Linked DNA regions of Homo sapiens. The protein of the gene in region 1 purifies or fractionates together with the protein of each later gene. This does not show direct contact. Each region holds a gene or a part of one and is shown in the gene's direction. Other genes may lie near its edges. The genes, in order: CCDC172 and MIPOL1.

Region 1 (3,835 bases):
AGAGTTAGTAGTGTGAGGGCTTCCAATCTGAACTCCAGTTTTGTAGGTTTATCACTCAGTCATAAAAATGTGCTCTGGGTTAAAATTAAACACACAAAGTCTGTTAGAGAATGCTTTTTCCTTCACAAATGATGACTTAGGAAATTTGGATAGAAAGAAATACCAGTGCATATATTTAGTCCATTCATTGCATTTTAGCAGTTATTAAATTAAATGCCAATATTTATCAATTCCTACTTTTTCATTCATTGATATGTGTACTTAGTTTCCCAATTAGCATGTTTCATAAGTTTTCCCAGGTGTGAAGAGTGAAGTCAAAGTACTGAGTATAAAGATTTTAGGAAAGAGGACTATCAGTCTTACAATTAATGCAATAACAAGAAGCTAATGATGTCAAAAAACAATAAGACATTGATTCAGCTTCATCATGAAGGCCAAAATTAAGTTGATGTTGTTATTGAATTTTGGGATAGAATAGTCTTTTTCATCTCTGTGTTCAAATGTATATGGAATTCCATAATAGTTGCATTTCTCTTAATTTGTCGGGTTTGACTTCTTAATGGAGTAGATGTTATTTTTATAGCAGGATTTCTCAAACTTGGCCTTGTTGACATTTTAGACCAGATTATTCTTTGTTGTCGGGGGCTGTTCAATGCATTGTGAGATGTTTAGTAGTAACCCTGTCCTCTACCCACTAGATGCAGTAGCACCCTGCATTCACCGGTTGTGGCAACCAAAAATGTCTCCAGACATTGCAAAATGTCCGCTGGGGAAGGGGGTTGCAAAGTCCCCCCAAGTTGAGAACCAGCTTTATTTTAAGGTTATTATGACTTCTACATTCATTAACTTTAACCAGTAAGAAAGCAATTACAGAGGAAATCTTTAATATTAATTCATTTCTATGAGCTTACTGTTTCTAGTTTTAGTAATTAGACAACTTTAATACATGCTTTATTTTGTCTATATTGAAATTCTTTTATAACGATTATGGTTCATGTTTTAAAGCTTAATATGCCATGTTCAGGTTATTTGTTGGAATCTATCTTGATGTTATCCATTACTGTAGAGAACCAGTGTTTCACAGTTTAGTGGTCTCTGCTTTAGGTAAAGTTTGCATTCACAATGGTTTAATGGTTCACATTCAGAATGATAATAGTCTCTGCTTTAAATAATCTGTCTCTATTTATAAATATCAAGATGTTTGTTTATTTAAACATTCTGTTTTGAAGAGTAAGTGTGTAACTAACACACATTTAAGCAGCTGACTTATAGAATATTGCTATGATTTACACTTAAACCATAGGTTAGGTTAATTTATCAGAAACCTCCCAAAGAGGTATGTAATTATGACTGATCTGGTTTTTTCATATAGTGTAGGGAGAACAGAAATAATAAAGATCAGAGTCTTAAGAGGCAGTAAGCATAGTGGTTAAACCCTTTTGAAACCCAGCTCTCCCCCCACTTATGGTTCATCTTTCTTTCACTCTTTGCATCTTGCACAGTCCAGGGCACATAGTGTTCAATAAATATTTGTTCCCGTAATTGAGTCTACATATAATTGAATTTTCACTACGAAAAGATTAAAGTTCATCTTCATATATTTTCAGTGTTATTTGCAAAGACATTATGTATTCTAACCACTGGGAAAGTGCCACTTTGGAATGGATTATTTTCATTCCTATCTTTTTCTTCGATGTGGAAAAAGCTTTACAAGTTTAATCATGCTGACCTCCCCTTAGTCCCTCATTCCCTTATCCTAATGTGGAGAGGAGTGACACAGTCTGATCGGTGAATCTGGAAAGGCAAACTGGGAAATGTGGAGCCCAGCCCCTTTCTTTTCCCTGTCTCTTTGGAACATTGCCTGCCTCAGAGAGCGTGTTTTCCCACTCTGCTTCTCCATCTCTTAAGTTTTATCATTGCTGGACTCCACAAGAGAAAGCCTGTGGGGTCCACTGCTACCTTTAATGGTGTGAGTTAAGTTAGTCTAATACTGGGGTTTGATATTAGCAAACCCTTGCCTACAGATTTAAGCCACATTCTCCAGTATCTGCTATATCAGTAATAAATGTGACATTTATGCTTGCCTTCTGCCTTTCTTATTTTTTGATTGGGCAGATTTCAGGCAGGAAAGAAGAGTATTATATATTGGGCCTCTGTAAACCCCCAAACCTATTATTATTATTATTATTATTATTATTATTATTATTATTATTATTATTATTTGAGACAAAGTCTTGCTCTGTATCCCAGAGCAAGGGATTACAGGCATGCACCGCCACGCCTGACTAATTTTTGTATTTTTAGTAGAGACACGGTTTCACCACGTTGGCCAGACTGATCTCGAACTCCTGACCCCAAGTGATACACCTGCCTCAGTCTCCCAAAGTGTTAAGATTACAGGCGTGAGCCACTGCACAAACCTATTATTTTTTGTTATTACCCAACACGAGGTTTACCAAAATGCACAGTTCTTGATCATGATTTTTTTTATTTACTCCAAATTATAACATAACAGACAATTTTAAACATTTCAGGAATTTTCTTTCACCACAAAACTTCCTTCTAGAATGGTTGTACATCTTGTATTACTGATATTTGTGCTTGTTTAATGCAATAGGAAGATTGTTTTAGGAATAAATCTGCATAGGCAACAGCATGAGATTTTCATTCTGAGCACTTAAAGATGGTGTGGCTTTGTTTCATCACCACAAGACAGGGCAATAAGAACAAAAAGAAATGAAAAGAAAAAAAGGTAGTATGGTTTGTGAAGAGCATATTTGCAATGTAAGCTGCACAAAAGTTAATATACACCTGCTACGAGAGACTCTAAATGCATTAATGTCATGTAGTAAAGCAGTGCTGTGACCTCTTCAGTGAAAAAGTCATCTAGTTAAGTTGGTCATAGAGGTCACACTGTTGGTCCTTAGACTTGTAAGAAGGCATAAACTCAATATGGTATTAACATGTTTTCAAACTCTTTCAAGGATACATAAATAAATATGTATATTTTCACATGTATATATTTTTTATTATGAGAACAGGCGGGCCAGGTGTGGTGGCTCATGCCTGTAATCCTAACACTTTGGGAGGCCAACGGGGGCAGATCACGAGGTCAGGAGATTGAGACCATCCTGGCTAACATGGTGAAACCCCGTCTCTACTAAAAATACAAAAAAAACTAGCCGGGCGTGGTGGCAGGCACCTGTAGCCTCAGCTACTCGGGAGGCTGAGGCAGGAGAATGGTGTGAACCTGAGAGGCAGAGCTTGCAGTGAGCCGAGATCGCTTTTCATACCCTTGCTCTGACACCCCAAGTGTGACTACTGTTAAAAGTTTGATGTGTATACTGTCAGAATTTATTTCTGTTTGTGTGTGTACACACATGTACATAGGTATGTCTGTGTGTGTTTAGCAAAAATGGGATTATGAATCACACTGGTCTGCAGTTTGCTTAATTATTTATCAAAATGTAGATGTTTTCATTTTAGTTTGTACTAATCTTCATTCTTTTTCATGCTATTATATGGAGATGCCATATTTATATAACCAGTCTCTCATTAATGGATGTACAAGATAGTTTCTAAATATTCATAATTAGACACACTTTTATAAATGTATCCTTAAATACTTGCAAGAGTCTTTCTGTAACATTATTTAGAATAAGCAGCATTTCGTAGAGTAATATGAATTGTTACCCAGGTTCCATTTATAAAATAGTCTACATTATCTTTGCTCTTTGTTTTCAACAACAGAGAAGCTCAAAGTAGACAAGAGTAACAAGATCTCAGTTCTACAGTGTCCTCAAAATATTAGTCAAATAGTTGTGTGTCTGTACCT
Region 2 (3,835 bases), on another chromosome or scaffold:
GTACCTTTTTTAAGGTTTAGCTTTTAGTTTGTTTCTTCTTTTCTTTCTTTCTTTCTTGCATCTTTCATGGAGATAAAGAGGGTGAGCTGAAGAAAATTGGAACTTGGAACAGACAAGAATGCAGAAAGTGAGAGGACACAGAAAAAATAGTAAAATGGGCAAGAGACAGCCTTTAAGCATATGGGTTGGTAGAAAAATCTGAGAAGAAATGAAGTAGGGATAGTTAGATTAATAACAATGTGCAAACCATGAAAAAAGGTATTTTTTGCACTCTACAAATGTGGCACTACACACTATTCTAATTTTCTGTGTAGTAACCAGTTGACCAGCGCTTAGTAACAGTCCGTATTCTTAGGGGTTTGAATCCTGAAGTGGTTTCATTTGGTATGCTGACTGTCCTTGTTTCATATCCATCCTAGTTCTATGGGACGCCTTCTCCAAAATAAGCATACTGTAAAGGCTTATAGATAACTTAAACTAAAAGAGGAAATTTATAATTACTTTGAACAGTTTTAAAGAAAGTATCAGGCTAGATATTAGGACAATGCCAAAGTTCACTAACTAGCTTTTTGCAGGTTTAATAATGATATTGCTTTCCTTCCCATTATCAATCTATATTATATAGTTAAGTTGTTTTACTTCAAATGTCTCCAATCGACATTTCCTTTGTATGCATATACTGAAATGATATTTAATAAAAAAGAACATCTCCTGTGTGGAGTTTAAATTTCTCTTATTAAATATTTATATTTTCAAAATGTCTTTATTTAATTGAGTGAGGTGCTTGGTGCCATTTCAAAATAACCTCAGGTGGTAGGTGTAATGACATATCAAAGATTTGACCTTTAGCATTTTAGGATTCTATTTGTCTGCATTTTCTTCTGCATTCATTTAGTCTTAATTTATATGCTATTTCTCTGTATGACTTAATGAGTAGATGTATTCGTTAAGAGATTCATTAGCCAAAAAAAAATATACACATGTATATATGAATACATTTTATTTCTGTGCAATCTGACTAGTGATTTTAAATTCATTTATATCTCAACTGTGACAAGTAGAAGATCAAGTAGAAAATGCTATGTAGAAGGCTGGTCAGTGTTTGCATAAACCTCATCCATTCTCATTAAGTGCTTGGCAGAATAGACCCTCGATCTCCTAAACCAATGCCCATTCTCTTCTCACTTCTTTCAGCTTATTACATTCTTTTATTTGCCTAGAGATACTTTATTTTCCAGTTCTCTGCTATTCCTTTTAAAGAAAATTGAATGTAATATTTACACTGATATAATTAAATTAACATCTTGCAGCATCTTTTTGTATGCTTTGGTAGCATAATCATTTGTCTGGGTAGCTTTCAGCCTAGAAGCAGAGAAATTATCAATTATAATGTTGTGACATAAAAATTATTTTCATTTGCTCATTTAAGTATTTATTGATTTTTAGAACTAGAGATTCTAAATGGAGGTTTTTGTTAAATAGATCATAGATCACTCAGTTTACATTACTTATCTTTAAATTTTTTTTAATATTTTCTCAGTTTACACAAATCTTTATCTCAAGAAGAAAATCTGAAGGATCAGTTTAACTATACCCTTAGTACATATGAAGAAGCTTTAAAAAACAGAGAGAACATTGTTTCCATCACTCAACAACAAAATGAGGAACTGGCTACTCAACTGCAACAAGCTCTGACAGAGCGAGCAAATATGGAATTACAACTTCAACATGCCAGAGAGGCCTCCCAAGTGGCCAATGAAAAAGTTCAAAAGTAAGTTAAATGATCTTGTAATAATACTTCAAACACATGAAACAAAACAAAACACTTTCTTTTGGGAACTAAACAATATGTAGTTATTGATCATGTTAATAGTTTAGAACAAAAGTAGAATTAACCCAGTGAACTTTTTTAGATTGGATACCATATGCCATATTTGGGGTCAAAAAAGTCATTTTCTTGGGAACCATTGTTACCCTGTAGGGCAAACCATTTTTATTTAATAACTGATCATCAGTTCATGGAGGCCATACTATTTAAATCATTTCACAGTCACAAGTTAATAGGCAAAGTTATTAGCAAGGGGAAGAGGCAGTCAAGTTACCACCTGAACTAATTTAGCTTTACAATAATCCTGCTTGAGTTGAGATCATCTGTGACATTGCAACCTGAGACTTGTAGGTGCATAAAAACCAGTAGGGTGAAATTAATTTTCTTGTGTTGTTCTTCTGAAGTATTCAATACTGCTTTTCACAGTGCATAATTATATATGTTTATTTTGAATGATCTTTGCATTTTTATTAGAATTTAAATAAAGCTGCATAATCTGTCAGTCCTTTTGACAGCTAGCAAAATGTTAACAAACAGCTTACCAGGCAAAGAAGTCACTTGTTAATTTAATGGACTTGAACATTGTAGCAGAATTTTCTGAGACACCTTTAATGTAATAGAACCACTGTAATAGAATACATAGAACACATGTAATAGAATATATTTTAACCTTCTTTATGTATTGTTAACAGCACTACAGCATTCACATATCTAGTCACCTTCAATTTCAAAGATATACCTTTTTCCTTAACAATTTTTATGTCAGTTTTACACTGTGAAGCAGTGCTCACATCAAGGTTTCTTACTTCCCACTACTTCTTATTTGAAAATGTCATCTTGACCATTTCCTCAATATCCCTGAAGTTATATTTTGATTAATAGCCAAAGTTATGTAAGTCAGTAGTTTTAAATTAGACCATTTTAAAACAGTTTAGAAATTGTGCATTTTAATCTTTACTAGCCATGTACCTTGAAACTTTTGATTTATGTAGGTATTATATATATTTGTAAGTTTAAAGATGGGGTTTATATTCAGTCAGAAACTATATGCAGTTATTCACAATGTACGTTAATATTCTAAGAACACTATGATGTATAGGTAGATCTCATTTCATTATAAATCACAATCAGTAACTTTTGACAGGATCTGATTTGGCTCTGTTTGCTTAAAGTCTACAAATACATACAAATTTCAAATTTTTCTTTATATATAATCCATTAATTTCTATACATGACCAAAATTCCCTAAAACAGTGGTTCCCACAGACCAATTCTATTTTCAAAAAATCTTCGGATGTGTTATCAACCTTTTATTTTTTAGATCTCATCAACTATCATCATCATTTCATTTAAAAAAACAATTTTTATACACCAAGAAGTAGAAATAATATCATCTCAGATAATGTTTTAAATTAAATAACTTTACTGAATGGCCAAGATAACCAAATAGGAACAGCTCTAGTCTGCAGCTCCCAGTGTTGATCGACACAGAAGATGGGTGATTTCTGTATTTCCACCTGAGATACCTGGTTCATCTCGTTGGGACTGGTTGGACAGTGCATGCAGCCCACCGAGGGTGAGCCAAAGCAGGGCAGGGTGTCACCTCACCTGGGAAGCACAAGGTGTCGGGGGATTTCTTTTTCCTAGCCAAGGGAAGCCGTGACAGACTGTACCTGGAAAATCGGTACACTCCCACCCAAATACTGTGCTTTTCCCACAGTCTTACCAACCTGCAGACCAGGAGATTCTCTCTCATGCCTGGCTTGGTGGGTCCCACGCCCATGGAGCATGGCTCACTGCTAGCATGGCAGTCTGAGATCCACCTGTGAGGCTGCAGCCTGGCAGGGGGAGGGGCGTCTGCCATTGCTGAGGCTTGAAGGTAAACAGAGTGGCTGGGCAGCTCAAACTGGGTGGAGCCCACCGCAGCTCAGCAAGGCCTACTGCCTCTATGGACTCCATCTCTGAGGGCAGGACATAGCTGAACAAAAGGCAGCAGACAACTTCTGC

What was found.
Region 2: the proteins of CCDC172 (region 1) and MIPOL1 purify together in Homo sapiens (affinity purification with mass spectrometry; 2 studies listed by BioGRID and IntAct, with this or other methods). This does not show direct contact.

What each region holds. Positions count from the first base shown.
Region 1 is NC_000010.11:116,358,863-116,362,697, forward strand, and holds part of CCDC172 (coiled-coil domain-containing protein 172), read left to right. Parts: intron 1-3,835.
Region 2 is NC_000014.9:37,498,368-37,502,202, forward strand, and holds part of MIPOL1 (mirror-image polydactyly gene 1 protein), read left to right. Parts: intron 1-1,540; coding exon 1,541-1,771; intron 1,772-3,835.